2 separate regions of the Homo sapiens genome follow, and region 2 is linked to region 1. Evidence: fine-mapped expression QTL. Tissue or cell type: NK cells. Region 1 holds a variant in brackets; the other region holds the start of a gene. All regions are shown on one strand. Distances are between the middles of the regions.

Region 1 (8,176 bases):
TCAGGCTTCAGACGCCTGCACTAAGGTCACCGTCTGGACTCCCTGGCCCCGGACAGCCATCAAATCCTTCCCTGGCCCTGAGTGTCTCTGTGGAACTAGGCCTTGCCTGCCTCAGCCCATTCCTTCCCTCCCATGGGCTCTGGGCCTGGGGAAGCAGGGTTTGCAGGGGCACAGCTGGGAGAGAGGCTTCCAGGTGCAGGGAGCAGGAATGAGACGAAGATGCTGGGAAAGCTGCTCTGGTGTGTGAGATCCAGAGGCAGAGAGAAGGCTGGGCATCATGAATGTAATTGCCTCTTTGACTTTTTTTTTTTTTCAGAAGGGGAAAGGGACTTTAGTTAAGATCTGAATGGTTTTTAAGTTGTTTTTGGTTTCCAGACATATATTTTATGTGCATCCCTGACTCAGAGGAGCCCTAAGACAGGCATGGGTGAGCGTGCTTCCTCATCCTCACCCCACCCCACCTGGCCCCCACTTTTCCTGCATTTTAACAAACACCCTTACCTTTTCCTTCCCTGAGAAAGCCAACTATTGGATGCGCTTAACCTGATTCCATACAAATGCCCAGCTTCTCTCTATCCACACCTCTCTCCCCTCCTGCCTCAGGGATCATGTTCCTTTTCCTGTTGAAGCCAATCTGGCCACTGGTGCTCTTTTCTTTTTTCCTTTCTCTTTCAATTTTTCTTTATTATGGCAAGTATGCTTAACAGAATTTACCATATTAACCATCCATGTTTAAGTGTAGAGTTTCGTGGTGTTAAGTACATTCACATTGTTGTGCAGCCATCACCACTGTCCATCCACAGAACTCTTTTCATCTTGCAAAGCTGAAACTCTGTACCCATTAAACAATAACTCCCCACGCCCCCTCCCCCAGCCCCTATTCTACTTTCTGCCTTACGAATTTGACCACTCTAGGAATCTCCTATAAGTAGATCATAAAGCATTTGTCTCTATTTTTTTTTTTTTTTTTTTGAGACTGAATCTCACCTGGTTACCCAGGCTGGAGTGCAGGGATGCGATGTTGGCTCACTGCAACCTCTGCCTCCTGGGTTCAAGCGATTCTCCTGCCCCAGCCTCCTGGGTAGCTGAAATTACAGGCATGCACTATCACGCCTGGCTAGTTTTTTTTTTTTTTTTTTTTTTTTTTTTGTATTTTTAGTAGAGACGGGGTTTCACCATTTTGGTCAGGCTGGTCTCAAACTCCTGGCCTCAAGTGATTTGCTGGCCTCAGCCTCCCAAAGTGCTGGGATTACAGGCATGAGCCACCACACCAGGCCTGCATTTGCCTTTTTGTTACTGATTTATTTCACTTAGCTTAATGTTCTCAAGGTTCACCTGTGTTATATCATGTGTGAGAATTTCTTTCCTTTTTAAAGCTGAATAATATTCCATTGTATGTATATATCACATTTTGTTTATTCACAAGCTTATTGGTTTTAGATGGGGTCTCTTTCTGTTGCCCAGGTGTACAGGTATTCCATTGTATGTATATATCACATTTTGTTTATCCATTCATTTGTTGTTTTAGACAAGGTCTCACTCTGTCACTTAAGCCGGAGTGCAGTGGCACAATCATGGCTCACTACAGCCTCAACCTCTCAGGCTCAAACAATCCTCCTGCCTCAGCTTCCCTACTATAGTAGTCCCAGCTACTTGGGAGGCTGAGGCAGAAGCCACCATGCCTAGCTAATTTTTTTTTTTTAATTTCTTGTAGAGGTGGGACCTCACTATGATGCCCAGGTTGGTCTCAAACTCCTGGGCTGAAGTGATCCTTCCACTTTGGCCTCCCCAAGTGCTGGGATTACAGGTGTGAGCCACCGTGCCCAGCCTCCATTCTTTTGTTGATGGACACTTGTGTTGCTTCTACCTTTTGGCTATTGTGAATAATGATGCTATGAACACAGGTGTACAAATATCTCTTCAAGATCCTGCTTTCAGTTCTTACACTCAGGAGTGGAATTGCTGGGTCATATGGTAATTCTATTTTTAATATTTGAGGAACTGCCATAGTGTTTTTCACAGTGGCTGTATTTCTATTCCCAACAACAGTGCACTAGTGTGCCAATCTCTCTATATCCTCACCAACACTTGTCATTTCCTGTGTATTTGATGGGAGCCATCCTAATGAGTGTGAGGTGGAATGTGGTTTTGGTTTGCATTTCCCCTATCAATTAGTGAAGTTGAGCATCTTTTCATGTGCTTATTGACTATTCATATATTTTCTCTGGAAAAATACCTGTTCAAGTCCTTTGACCATTTTTTAATCTGGTTGGTTGTTTTGTTGTTGAGTTGTAGTTCTCTATATGTTCTGGATATTAATATCTTATCAGATACATGATTTGCAAGTATGCTGTCCCATTCAGCAGGTTGCCTTTTCACTCTGTTGGTAGTGTGTTTTAATGCATAAAAGTTTTCAATTTTTATGAAGTCCAATTTGTCTATTTTTGCTTTTGATGCCTCTGCCTTTGGTGTCATATCCAGGAAGTCATTGCCAAATTCAATGTCGTAAAGTTTTGCCCTACATTTTCTTCTAAGTGTTTTGTAGTTTTTAGCTCTTATATTTGGGTCTTTGGTCCATTGTGAGTTAATTTTTGCATATGGTGTTACGTAAGGGTCCAACTTCATTCTTTATCATGTGGATATCCACTTTCCCCAGCACCATTTGTTGAAATGACTGTCTTTTTCCCACTGAAGGGTTGTGGCACCCTTGTCTAAAATCATTTGACCATATATGCGAGGGTTTGTTTCTGGACTCTCTATTCTATTCCATTGATTGATATGTCTGTCTTTATGCCAGTACCACACTGTTTTGAAGACTGTAGCTTTGTAGCTAAGTTTTGAAATCAGAAACTGTGAGACCTCCAGCTTTGCTGTTCTTTTTCACAATTGTTTTGGGTTTTAGGGTCCTTTGAGGTTCCACATAAATTTTAGGATGGATTTTTCTATTTTTAAAGAAGATGTTGTTGGGAGGCACTAATGCCTCCCAACAACAATCCTCTGTTCCTGTTAGCTCTTTCTCCACAGGCACCTTCTCTTTGCTATAAACATGCTCACTTCTTTGTCATCCTAACAACTACTCCTTTGACCCCGTGTCCACCTCAGATATTTGTTCTATTTATCTTTACATATTTTAAAATCCAACCTCCTTGAAAAAGAAGCTCACTCTCTCACTTCCTCATGTATGCCCACGTGCTTCTTTTTATTAGCTGATTTTAATTTTTATGAAGACAATGAATGGCCACAGTTTAGAAAGATGAAAAAGTGCCACATTTCTTATAATGAAAACAGCAGTTTCCTGTGCCCCACTCTCCCCAAAGGCAGCCACTTAATTTTTCTGATATTCCAATGTGTATTTGCAACAACAGCCTGATAGTGCTCTTTGTAGATTTTTCAGTTTAAATACTATCTAGCCCAGGTGTGGTGGCTCATGCCTGTAATCCCAGTGCTTTGGGATGCCGAGGCGGGATCACCTGAGGGCAGGAGTTTGAGACCAGCCTGGCCAACATGGCAAAACCCCGTCTCTCCTGAAAATACAAAAATTAGCTGGGTGTGGTGGCGGGCCCCTGCAGTCCCAGCTACTCAGGAGGCTGAGGCAGGAGAATCACTTGAACCTGGGAGGCAGAGGTTGCAGTGAGCCGGGATCTCGCCACTGCACTCCAGCCTGGGCGACAGAGCGAGATACTCCATCTTAAAAATAAATAAATAAATAAATAAATAAATAAAT[A/T]AATAAATAAATTAATTAAAAAAATAAATACATACTATCTAAACTGACTTCTTGTGACGGAAGGCAAGAACAGTGCAAACCTCACCCCAGCCCCCATGCAAACCCATCCCCCATCCTTTCAATACATTTAGTTTCATCTCAAGTTTTGGTTAAGTTAAAAATAGTTACATAACTTTGATTAGATAAATTTTCTTACATCCCATGTAGTATATTATGATTAACCTTCCCTACTTATATGATTTTTGGTTTTCTCTGAAGTTAAGTTTTGCCGTGTTTTTATTTGCTTAGTTGTCTATATATGTTTCATGACTAAATTAGCCTCTTTTTCCTCTTGGCCTAGAGGGCTCAGTAGATCCAAACCTGTGAGGAAGTTATGAGCACTCTTCTCTCTTCTCTCTTTTCTTTTTTTTTTCTTCCATACCCCTCGCCTGCCCCCAGTCTCCCGCTCTAATCTGTGCTAGTTACTTACTGGGCCTCATATACAGCTGTTAGTGATCCTAGAGCTTCCCTCTCCACTGTCCTGGGAATTTCCTTTGCCTCTTACCTACAGGATCCCAAATTCCCTGAACCCCATGCCTGCCTTTTGGTGATTTGCTCCTTCGTTTTGGTGAAACCCAATCTCTAGTACCTTCCTGAGAAAAGAGGCAAGAGAATTTAGAAACTTTGCATATATGAAAATATCTTTCTTCTGCTTCTTTTTTTTTTCTTTTTTTTGAGACTGAGTCTCACCCTGTTGCCCAGGCTGGAGTGCAGTGGCACCATCTCGGCTCACTACAAGCTCTGCCTCCTGGTTCAAGTGATTCTTCTGCTTCAGCCTCCAGAGTAGCTGAGATTACAGGCATGTGTCACCACGCCTGGCTAATTTTTGTATTTTTAGTAGAGACGGGAGTTTCACCATGTTGGCCAGGCTGGTCTTGAACTCCTGAGCTCAAGTGATCCGCCTGCCTCAGCCTCTCAAAGTGCTGGGACCATAAGCATGAGCCACCACACCCAGCCAGAAAATATCTGTCTTCTACCTTGACAGTTAATTGATAATTTACCTGGGCATACATAGAATTCTAGTTGAAAATTATTTTCTCTTAGAATTTTTGGGCCAGGTGCAGTGGCTTATGCCTGTAATCCCAGCACTTTGGGAGGCCAAGATGGGCATATCACTTGAGGTCAGGAGTTTGAGACCAGCCTGGCCAGTGTGGCAAAACCCCATCTCTACTAAAAATACAAAAATTAGCTGGGCGTGGTGGTGCGTGCTTGTAATCCTTCCTACTCAGGAAGCTGAGGCAGGAGAATTGCTTGAACTCGGGAGGCGGAGGTTGCAGTGAGCCGAGATTGTTCCAGTGCACTCCAGCCTGGGTGACAGAGGGAGATTGTCTCAAAAAAAAGAAAAAAAAAATTTTTTAAAGAGATTTTTCTATTGTATTCTAGTTTCCTGTGTTGCTCTTGAGAAGCCTAAAACTATCCAACTTTGAATCTTTTGTATGTGACCCATTTTTCTCTTTGGAAGTTTCAAGTGTCTTCTCTTTGTCTCCCGTGCCTTAGGTCTTTGTGAATAATACAGCTGGGACTTGGTAAGCCCTAGCCCCTGGAACGTTGTGCGTTCAATTTCTTTGGTAACTATCTCCATTTCCAGCTCTTTGTTTTGTTTTTCTGGAGTTCCAAGTAGTAAAATATTGGACTTCCTGGATGATCTTGAATTTTCTTATCTTTCTTGATCTATTTTCCATCCTTTTTTTGTGCCTCTGGAATCTTTCTTCAACTTTATTTTCTAGCCCTTCCAATTAACATGTTATTGTTGCTGTCATATTCCTAATTATTAAGAGTTCTTGCCGGGCGCGTTGGCTCACGCCTGTAATCCCAGCACTTTGGGAGGCCGAGGCGGGTGGATCACGAGGTCAGGAGATGGAGACCATCCTGGCTAACACGGTGAAACCCCGTCTCTACTAAAAATACAAAAAATCAGCCGGGCGTGGTGGTGGGCGCCTGTAGTCCCAGCTACTCGGGAGGCTGAGGCAGGAGAATGGCGTGAACCCGGGAGGTGGAGCTTGCAGTGAGCCGAGATCGCACCACTGCACTCCAGCCTGGGCGACAGAGCCAGACTCCGTCTCAAAAAAAAAAAAAAAAAAAAAAAAGAATGAGAAAGAGTTCCTTTTGTTTTCTGAATGTTATTTTTTCCTTTTTTGTATGGATTCTCTTCCCATTTCATGGGTGCAATATTATCTCTCTGTCTTTGGAAATATTAATCATAGTTTTTTGATGTTTTGTTCTGTTGTTTGCATTGTATGTTTTGTAAACCAACAAGTGTCTGAGACAGATCTCAGTCGATTTAGAAGTTTATTTTGCCAAGGTTGAGGACACGCTTAGGAAAAAGAAACACAAACCACGGTAGGATCTGTGGCCTATGCTTTTTTCCAGAGAGGGTTTTGAGGACTTTAGTGTTATATTAATTATTAATAAAATTAATAATATCACATTAATTAACTATATTAATAGTCCCTTCAGGACTCTGTCTCCCCTTGACTTCTGTGACATCATACTAATCTTATTCTAGCCCTGTCTCTTTTTCTCTCCTCTTCTGAGTTTCTTCCTCTGCCTCCCTTTAAAACACATCAATGGTTGGGTGTGGTGGCTCACACCTGTAATCCCAGCACTTTGGGAGGCTGAGGAGGGTGAATCACCTGAGGTCGGGAGTTCGAGACCAGCCTGGCCAACATGGTGAAACCCCATCTCTACTAAAAATACAAAAATTAGCCAGGCATGGTGGGCACCTGTAGCCCCAGCTACTCGGGAGGCTGAGGCAGGAGAATCGCTTGAACTGGGGTGGGGGAGGTTGCAGTGAGCCAAGATTGCACCACTGCACTCCAGCCTGGATGACAGAGTGAGACTCTGTCTCCAAAGAACAAAACAAAACAAAACAAAACAAAACAAAACAAAACAAAACAAAACACATCCATGCCCCTTGGGGCTTATTCTTAACCTTCGTCTCTTCCATAGTGAGAGTAAACTTGCTAGAGTTCCCCACACACCATGCTTTCTTAGGCCACTGTGCCGTGGCCAGGCTGTTCCTTGGGTCTGTAGTGCCCTTTGTCCTTGGTTGCCTGATGAACTCCTATACATCCTACAAAACCTGGCTCAGGGCTTATGCCCCCTGCAAATCTTCTCTTGAGTCCCCTCTGAGAGAATTAATCACTACCTTCTCAGTATGACATTAAAACACGTTATTGCATGTATTATAAATGTTTGGGGAGTTTTTATATATTCATGTGGCCAACAAGGCAGGAAAAGCAGGCTTCCCTTCTGTCTGGATTTTAGACTGCATCACAAAAAATTCACATTTATCAAGGTAGGTGGAGAGGATACCAGGGAGGGTATAGCAAGAGTATACTTCACTCCAGGCTGAACCCCCTGAATTATTCTGAGGTGGCTGCACCTGGAGTTGGGAGTGAATATCATTTTGTTACAGGCTGTGAGATTCTTGGCTCCCTGGACTCCGCAAGGCACCTTGGGAACCTCAATATCCTTCAATAGTGGAAACGGGAATTTTCTTCATACCTCGGTCTCCTGAGGCATCAGGGACCATCCACTCACTCCTGGCTCCACACCTCCCTCTAGGGTCAGCCGCCTTCTCTCCAAGCTCTCTCCACTTCTCAGTGTCACTGTTGGCCACGCCCAGAGAGGAGCAGGGGCTACTGCAGCTGGTGTCTCTTCCTGGGATGAAGCATCTTGAAGTCTTTAGAGACACTTGTGCACACACTACAGGCCTCCTTCCCATGTGTGTCCTTGAATGGGTTCCAGAGGGTCTCTGAGCCCGCTGGAATTGGTGTGGAATAGCTTTTGGCTTTTCAAAATGATGTGTGTGAATGCTTTTGCATTGCAAAAGTTTTCAAAGGAAGCTTGAACCCCCTTCCAAAAGTTAAGAACCATAGAACACTTAGATCCTCAAGGGAATTCTGGGATTACAGGGAGACCTCACTTTAAGAAAGATAGACAGGTCCAAAGCAACTATGTTGGAGTTACAGTAACTGCATTGCAAGACGCTTCTCTCACATGAACTGTATTTGTTGCTCTCCAAGCTTTAGCCCTGGAATCCACCCAGATCACCTAGCTGTGAACAAGCGTGCAGGGAAGGTTCAGGGAGTGATGAATAAGAGGCTGGGACTGGAAACACTTTTGATTGTTTATCATGTGGGTGGAGGGAGGAGGGACATTCACATACAATCAGCCACTTTGAAAATTTCACACCCAAGCGATCTCAGGCATATAGTCAGTCACAAACAAGTCACCCACACGTTCTTTCCCTTTCTCTCTCTGTTTCTCTCTCTCTCTTCACACACACACACACACACACACACACACACACACAGGCACGCGCACACACATGCACACACATGCACCAAGGCTCACCAATGCTCCCTCTGGTGGCAAGAAGAAGAACTTTATCTCTTTATTCCAGGAATA
Region 2 (8,176 bases), 30 kb before region 1:
CTCTAGATTGCATTGATTGTTTCCCCTCCTCTGCATTATCCTTTTCCACCTCCCAGTTTTTGTCAGGTACATTGTCATTTCATTTTCTCATTCGATAATTATTCATTCAGTTCCTACAGTGTATTAGGCAATGTTCTAGGTGCTGGAGCCACAGGGGTAAAAAAAACAGATAGGCTGGACGCGGTGGCTGACGCCTGTAATCCCAGCACTTTGGGAGGCCGAGGCAGGCGGATCACGAGGTCAGGAGATTGGAACCATCCTGGCTAACACAGTGAAACCCCGTCTGTACTAAAAATACAAAAAGTTAGCCGGGCATGGTGGCGGGCGCCTGTAGTCCCAGCTACTCAGGAGGCTGAGGCAGGAGAATGGCGTGAACCCAGGAGGCAGAGCTTGCAGTGAGCTGAGATCGCGCCACTGCACTCCAGCCTGGGCGACAGAGCGAGACTCTGCCTCAAAAAAACAAACAAACAAAAAACAAACTCCCCGCTGGCATAGAGCCCACAAGTAAAGGAGATAGACAATAAGTAAGAAAAATACAATTGTGGATGCTAATATGTGCCATAGAGAAAAATTGAGCAGGGACGGGATACAGTGTGTGTATGTACATCTATGGAAGGGGGTTGTGGCTTTAAACACAGTGTTGGGAGAAGACCCCATTGAGAAGGTAATACGTGAACACAGCTTAGTGTGGTGAAAAAATGAACCATTTGGTGATCTGGGAGAGAGGATTCCAGACAGTGAGGACAGCAGGTGCAAAGGCCCTGAGGAAGGATGGTTGCCAAGTTCAAGGGATGGTGAGGACTGTGGCTGGAGCCAGGGATAGAGGAAAGTACAGGAGGTAAGATCAGAAAGTGAAGAGCAGGTCTTAGAGGGCCTTGCAGGTAGCATCAATGACTTTGGCTTTACTCAGAATGAGATGAGAAGACTCTGGTGGCTTTTGAGCAAAGGAGTGATATCATCCTTAGTTTTAAAGTTTTTGCAGTGTTAATGTACGTCTTGTTTTGTTAATAAATTGTCTTCAACACTTTTCTTTAGATTGAGTCTAACAATTTATGAAGAATTTATATAAGATTAAGTAGACAGCCAGGCGCAGTGGCTCATGCCTGTAATCCCTGCTCTTTGGGAGGCTGAGGCTGGTGGATCGCCTGAGGGCAGGAGTTCGAGACTAGGCTGGCCAAAATAGTGAAACCCCGTCTCTACTAAAAACACAAAAAATTAGCTGGGCATGATGGCAGGCGCCTGTAATCCCAGCTACTAGGGAGGCTGAGGCAGGAGAATCGCTTGAACCCGGGAGGTGGAGGTTGCAGTGAGCCGAGGTCGTGCCATTGCACTCCAGCCTGAGCAACAAGAGCAAAACTCAATCTAAAAAAAAAAAAAAAAGAATTAAGTAAATATAGAAAACAAAAGCTATGTTACTTTTTGCATCTCTCTGGGTCTCATTCTTACCTCTAACCCGCCTTATTCCCATCTTTCTTTCCGCCTTGTCCTGGGTAGCCACCCAGAGGGACCCCTCCTCTCCACTTGGACTTCCTCCTTCTCACACAGGTGTGGAGGTGGTGTGGCTCAGCCCTAGCTAGAACCATTTCCAGCACATTCTTCCCTGGGGCCATTTTGTAGTCTAGCCTGTTCCAGCCGGACTTGGATTTACTGACGGTGCAGATCTGCTTTCTCTTTGGGGTGGGCAGAGGGAGAAGCCAGCTCTGGGCTGCTACCATGGGACATTTTGTCCATCAGCCAGATGTGGAGTTAACAAGTCAATGATAATTGAGTAAGTGATGGGGCGCGGTGGCTCACGCCTGTAGTCCCAGGACTTTGGGAGGCTGAGGTGGGCAGATCATGAGCTCAGGAGTTCGAGACCAGCCTGGCCAACATGATGAAACTCCATCTCTACTAAAAATACAAAAATTAGCCAGGCATGGTGGCAGGCGCCTGTAATCCCAGTTACTCGGGAGGCTTAGGCAGGAGAATCACTTGAGCCCAGGAGGCGGGGGTTGCAGGGAGCCGAGATTGTGCCATTGCACTCCAGCCTGGGTGACAAAGTGAGACTCCATCTCAAAAAAAAAAAAAAAAAAAAAAGAATTGGGTAAGTATCTCTAGGGCCCAGCACTGCTCCAGCCCAGTGACTTAACCAAGAAGTTTAAGTCAGAGCTCCTGTTCCAGGGGATGGGTAGGGATACCTCAGCAGGAAGGGAGGAGCAGCACCAGCCCTCTCTGCACGCTGCTCCCCTGGCTTTTGAGTTCTTCTTGATCCTTCTGATGGCCCAAATAATCCAGCCTGGGCCTGAGCCTCTCCCAGATGTGGCTACCAGGCAAGATGCCAGTTCTAGGGAAAGATTTGGAATGAATCATCTCCCCTAGTCCCAGAGGTCTTGAGATTGGAGGACAGGATTCCAGGTTCCAAGGACCCATTCAGGCCTCCAGGAAGACGTTGTCGTGTTAGGAACTGGATGCTTAGCTGATGAAGACCCTTCCAGCAGTAGAGTATGTCCTGCTAAATTTCCTCCAATGGCCCCCCACCCCCATCTTTATCTGCTCACTCTTGCTATCCAATGTTCCCTTCTCCTGTGTCCAAAAGCCCGCTACCTCGCAACTCAGTAAGCTGAAGAGAAAAGTATGGGTGACTGGATCATTTTTAAAGGAACTATGTGGACTCAGATGTTCATGTATGGGCAGTATGGGTATGTATCATCAAACGATCCTGGGCCCTGTTAGCCACCATGCATTCTCATCTGGACTTTGCCATTTTCAAAGCCATGTGACGCCATTTACATTATCTGACCTCTCTGGGTCTCATTTTTCTCATCGGTAAAACGCCCACAGTGATAATAATATCTGTCTATCATGAGCATCTACAACATGTGAGAGGGCTCTGTACGAAGCCCATACAACTGTGAATCCACCTGGAACTGGAAAGAGCATGAATGAGTCCCAGACCCAGTGTGGGGAGAAGAGGAACTGGTAGAGATAAAACAGCAGTGGCCCACGCATGTAATCCCAGCACTTTGGGAGGCCAAGGCAGGCGGATCACCTGAGGCGGGGAGTTTGAGACCAGCCTGACCAACATGGAGAAACCCCGACTCTACTAAAAATACAAAAAATTAGCCAGGTGTGGTGGCAGATGCCTGTAATCCCAGCTACTTGGGAGGCTGAGGCAGGAGAATCGCTTGAACCTGGGAAGCAGAGGTTGCAGTGAGCCGAGATCGCACCGTTGCACTCCAGCCTGGGCAACGAGGGCAAAACTCCGTCTCAAAAACAAAAACAAAACAAAACAAAAAAATGAGTTAGGGGTAGAGCCTGATCTAGGGCCCTGTTTCCTCAGAGAGAGAACTTTGGATCATGGCAGGACTGTGCCAGGTTGGTGCACCCAGGAGACCCCTGTGGAGTGGTGGGGAGGAGCCATGGGAGGGCAGGGCTGGCAGGCAGGCTGAGACCTTGTGGGTCCCTCAGGTAGGGCCGTGGCCACCTCGAGCTCCCTCTTCTGCTGCTCTCTGGGCCTCAGGAGACACCTGTCTTTGTCTTTTCTTTAATGCCACTGTCTATTCCCTCTCCTGGAGGGGCATTCTGGGAGTTAGGAGTTAGTTGTCGTCACACGTGTGTGTGTGTGTGTGTGTGTGTGTGTATAAAGAGTTATGGATGAGACACTGACAGTTCCCTTCTCTCATCTCCTAACTTTGGGACTGCAGAGGAGCGCACTCCTATCCCCACAACAGGACCTTCCCTGTATCTGTTAGGCTCTGCTCTTTGGGCAGGAGGATGGCAACACAGGGTGTAAGTACAAAGAGGTCTTATTACTGTCATTATTATATATCATTACTCCCGTAAGAATCTATTATTAACATGTTGATGAATAGACCTTTAAGAAACTGTGGGCCTGGAGGAACTGATCAAGATGGGGACAGAATGAGGACCTAAGAGAGCCCTCTTCCAGTGCCTGGCTTAATCTCAGGGCCCCCATCATTCTCTAAAGGGAATAAGAGTGGGGAGAGGGGAGGAAGAACATTTCTTGAGACTCAAGAGTTGTCAGGTCCTGTCTTGGGTCTTTCACAAATGTTATCCAACTTATTCATCAGGACAACCCCATGAGATGAGAATAAATTAATCCTCCTATTCGACAGATGAGGAAATTGACGGAGGTCAGTAAAGTTGCCCCAGGTGGGCAGGACACAGCCAACAAGGGAGAAGAGGTTTGAACTCAACTCTGCAAAGCTCTTGTGTTTACACAATATTCTAGCCAGAACAGAAAGAGACCTCTCCCTCTGCGTTCCCCTCCAGCTCTGTATGCGGGAGAAGTCCATTCTTGGGGAAGGCCGAGGGAGGACAGAATCTGCGGAGCGGAAGGAGCAAGGTTGGAGCTGCGCTTACACCTGGGACTGGCTGTGCCATCGGTCCAGCGTCGGCGCCTGCAAGTGTGCGGTGGAGAGGACTGCAGACAGTGGCATCCCCAGGTCACGGAGGGGGTCCCTCCTCCCCCACTACGAGGAGGGCATGAATGACCTCAAGCCTCAGCTCTCCTTTGTTGGCACTGGCTACTCTCTACAGGCCTCCCCGCGCAATGCATGGGGGTAGGAGTAGGAGCAGGTGAACTGTCCAAGCAGAGGCAGCGATGGACAGCCTCTCTTGGGTGCTGCACAGAGAAATCGGGCGATGGAGGAGGAACCCAACATGGGCTTGATGCAGAGGCTGGGGGCCCCATGGCGTGCCAAGTAACCAGCAGCTGTCTGACGCCTAACATGCAACTGGTGCCACTGCGCGTTCGCCAAGCAAGCCCACCCCCTTGCTAGCAGCGCGCTCTCCAATCGAGGAGATGCGCCTTCCCCCTCCCTTCCCCGCCATCTCCCCCTTCATTCAAGGCCTGGGGGAGCTGCGGTTCCGAGAAGCGGCAGACGGCAGCCAGAAGGCTTGGGCTGTTGAGTAAGCAGCCCCCTCTCAGTCCCGGCCCTCCCCGCCCCGCGCCCTGCGCCTCCAGTGAGTGACTGAGCCCCCGCTGCGGCCCCGCCCCCGGGGCCCTGCCGGAGCTGGTGCGCGGCGCGGAGGGGAGGGCCGGCCAGGGTAGGAATGCGCTGCGGGCGGGCGGCGCAGGAGGCGAGCGGCGGAACATGTAAGGGCACATCCCGCGAGCTGCCGCCCAGCGCGCAGACAGAGCCCAGGGGAGCAAGAGAACGGGCGGGCGGTGGGGCTCACGGCCTAGGGAGGCGCGGAGGCATCTGGCAGAGGCGGGTCGGGCTGGGCCAGCTGGGGTAGAGCGGAGGAGCGGGTGCCGGCTGAAGCGGGGCGGTGGGCGCGGAGCGCGCTGGGGGCACCGACACCACCTCACCGGCAGCCGGGTGCTGAGGGCCGCGGTGTGGGTGCGCGGAGCAGTCAGGGCGCAGGTGGGCAGCGCGCACGGCCTGCCAGCCCGGGGCGCCAGAATCCTGCGCTGCGGGGCCGAGAGGGGCGCCGCGCCCGCCGCAGCCTGGAGCTTTCCGCGAACCTCGGGGCGCCCATGACGGCGGCGGCGACGGCTACCGTGCTCAAGGAGGGCGTGCTGGAGAAGCGCAGCGGCGGGCTGCTGCAGCTGTGGAAGCGGAAGCGCTGCGTCCTCACCGAACGCGGGCTGCAGCTCTTCGAGGCCAAGGGCACGGGCGGCCGGCCCAAGGAGCTCAGCTTCGCCCGCATCAAGGCCGTGGAGTGCGTGGAGAGCACCGGGCGCCACATCTACTTCACGCTGGTGACCGAAGGGGGCGGCGAGATCGACTTCCGCTGCCCCCTGGAAGATCCCGGCTGGAACGCCCAGATCACCCTAGGCCTGGTCAAGTTCAAGAACCAGCAGGCCATCCAGACAGTGCGGGCCCGGCAGAGCCTCGGGACCGGGACCCTCGTGTCCTAAACCACCGGGCGCACCATCTTTCCTTCATGCTACCCACCACCTCAGTGCTGAGGTCAAGGCAGGTAAGCCCCCGGGGGACTGGGCCCTCTTCTCTCCTTCCCTCCCTTCTCTTTCCCCTACAGAGAGAATGAGGACTAGCATTCTACTTCAGAGCCGGACATCTTAGGGGGGAGGTTCCTGGGGCCAACTGAGGGCATGGGAGGCTTGGGCCAGTGGCCAACCCAGCAGATCCGGACTTTCCCCTGAGGCACCAGGTTGGCCGGTCCAGAATGTGATCCAGGTGTGTGAGAGGAAGATGGAAGCCCTGGGAGGGGGATACCTGGGTGAGATGAGCCTTCTTTCAAGTTGGTTCAGCCCTGACTCAGGTGGAAGGAAGTAGAGGGAGGTTGGCCTGCACATTGCCCCAGGCTGTGGGCCTCTGCTTTCCACGCAGAGCAGGGCTCCTGGACTTCGGCTTTCTGGCAGCTGAGGACAACCGAGGGTGGGGACGCGGATCGTGGAGGCCGACCCTCTTTCCCTCTAGGTTGAATGCTTGTCATAAAGTTTGAGCATTGAATTGATGTAGAAAGACAGTATCTCCCAGATGGCGAAGGCACCATCAAGGGTTGCAAATAGAGCCAAGGAGTCCGGCTCCCAAGGTGGGGCCTCAGTGGAAGGTGGGGCCTCAGTGGGCCGCCTTGGCTGGACTGGGCCTGAGGGATCCAGCTCCTCCTCTACATATGTGTGTGTGTGTGTGTGTGTGTGTGTGTGTGTGTGTGTGTGTATGGTTTGTTGTTGTTGTTGTTGTTGTTTGAGACAGAGTCTCGCTGTGTCACCCAGGCTGGAGTACAGTCGTGTGATCTTGGCTCATTGCAACCTCTACCTCCTGGGCTCAAGCAAATCTCCTGCTTCAGCTTCCAGAACAGCTGGGATTACAGGTGCCTGCCACCACACCCTGCTAATTTTTGTATTTTTAGTAGAGATGGGGTTTCGCCATGTTGGCCAGGCTGGTCTTGAACTCCTGACCTCAGGTGATCTGCCTGCCTCGGCCTCCCCAAGTGCTGGGATTACAGGTGTGAGCCACTGCACCCAGCCTATATATATATTTTTGAGACAGGATCTCTACCTGTCGCCCAGACTGGTGCAGTAGCATAGTCATGGCTCACTGCAGCCTCAACAGCTTCAACCTCTTGGGCTCAAGCGATCCTCCCACCTCAGCCTCCAGGTAGCTGGGACTACAGGCACACGCCACCATGCCTGGCTAATTTTTTTTTTTGTAGATTTGGGGTTTCCCCACGTTGCCCATGCTGGTTTCGAACTCCTGAGCTCAAGCAATCTGCCCACCTTGGCCTCCCAAAGTGCTAAGATTACAGGTGTAAGCCACCACACCTGGTCCCCATTCTTGACAGTGGGTTTTGAGCCCTAGGGCTCACTGTTAGGAGAGCAAGGGAGCTGAAGGATAGGCAACTGCGCCAGAGGCTGGGCCACTGATGCCAAGGGGTGGGGGCCTAGCTGTCTACCTGCCCCTGAGTGCCAGTCAGGCCTGGCTGGGCCAGGGAAGGAGAAGCTGGAGGAGGGCATGGGGCACTGGGGCAGGGTGGGTGGGTGCAGCAGGATGGGGTCATGAGTTGTTATTTGTGATGTCTTAATCCTCTATGAGCAGTAGGGCAGGGAGTGGGGGGCGGATTTGTGGTCAGGAAGGCCCAGGGGAGGGGCCAGGAATAGAATCTGGAAGCCCTGGCTCTCAGCCCTGTGCCCTCTTCCCCAGATGCCACTCCCTTCTTGTGAGAAGTAGGAGTAGGGCTGAGAAAGGATTTAGCCTTCCTTCTAGCCTTAATTTTTCCAGTGGAAACCTAGATCCTTCTCTCCCCACTACCACCTCCTAGGCGACCTTACCCGCCTGCAGATGTCTTCAACAGTAGAGAGTCCTAGTGAGCCTGGGGCCCCATCTAGTGCCATACCCCACTTTGATGGTCCTGTTAATGCCCTCCCACATTGTAGTTAGGGTTTAGCTGAGAAGTGGGGTATAAGGCAGACCCCCTGTGCTGAGGATTGATCCACATTGATCCCTCAGGTCTTGGGGGCCTGGGAGGAAGCAGATTCCTTTACCACAGTACGTATGCAAAAAATGTTTTCCATGTTTATGGAAAAGGCTGGGAAGTGCTGGTGTAAAATGCCCAAGCTCATAATAGATACTCCTTTCTCCATTGTTGCCCCTGCTCTAACTGCTGTTCTTTCTTGCCAGCTTCGTTGTTCCCTCTGGCTTGTGGGGGCACGGCTGTGCTCCATGTGGCAAGGTGGAAGGCATGGACGTGTGGAGGAGGCGCTGGA

Alleles and levels. Positions count from the first base shown, and alleles are read on the strand shown. Sizes are in standard deviations (SD) of each study's normalised expression.
For the expression in NK cells of the gene that starts at base 5,081 in region 2, A is the low allele of the variant in region 1 and T is the other (large effect, 2.0 SD a copy in Schmiedel 2018).

What was found. PIP is the estimated chance that this variant, and not a neighbour inherited with it, causes the effect. A credible set is the group of variants that fine-mapping cannot tell apart.
Region 2: PHLDA3 starts here. The variant in region 1 is the best candidate, but not a certain one, in a credible set for the expression of PHLDA3 in NK cells (Schmiedel 2018, PIP 0.86).

The regions. Positions count from the first base shown.
Region 1 is chr1:201,435,821-201,443,996 of GRCh38, reverse strand. No RefSeq gene overlaps it. Among named protein-coding and RNA genes, the nearest start is that of TNNI1, 18 kb to the right of the region's middle. The variant A/T (reference allele first, on the strand shown) is at 3,725.
Region 2 is chr1:201,466,093-201,474,268 of GRCh38, reverse strand. PHLDA3 (pleckstrin homology like domain family A member 3) reads left to right here and starts at 5,081. Exons shown (of 2, transcript NM_012396.5): 1 at 5,081-5,928; 2 at 8,091-8,176. The coding sequence starts at 5,483. The coding sequence ends at 5,866. RefSeq lists silencers at 4,812-5,041, 5,252-5,561 and enhancers at 5,062-5,181, 4,696-5,410, 5,632-5,771, 5,842-5,901.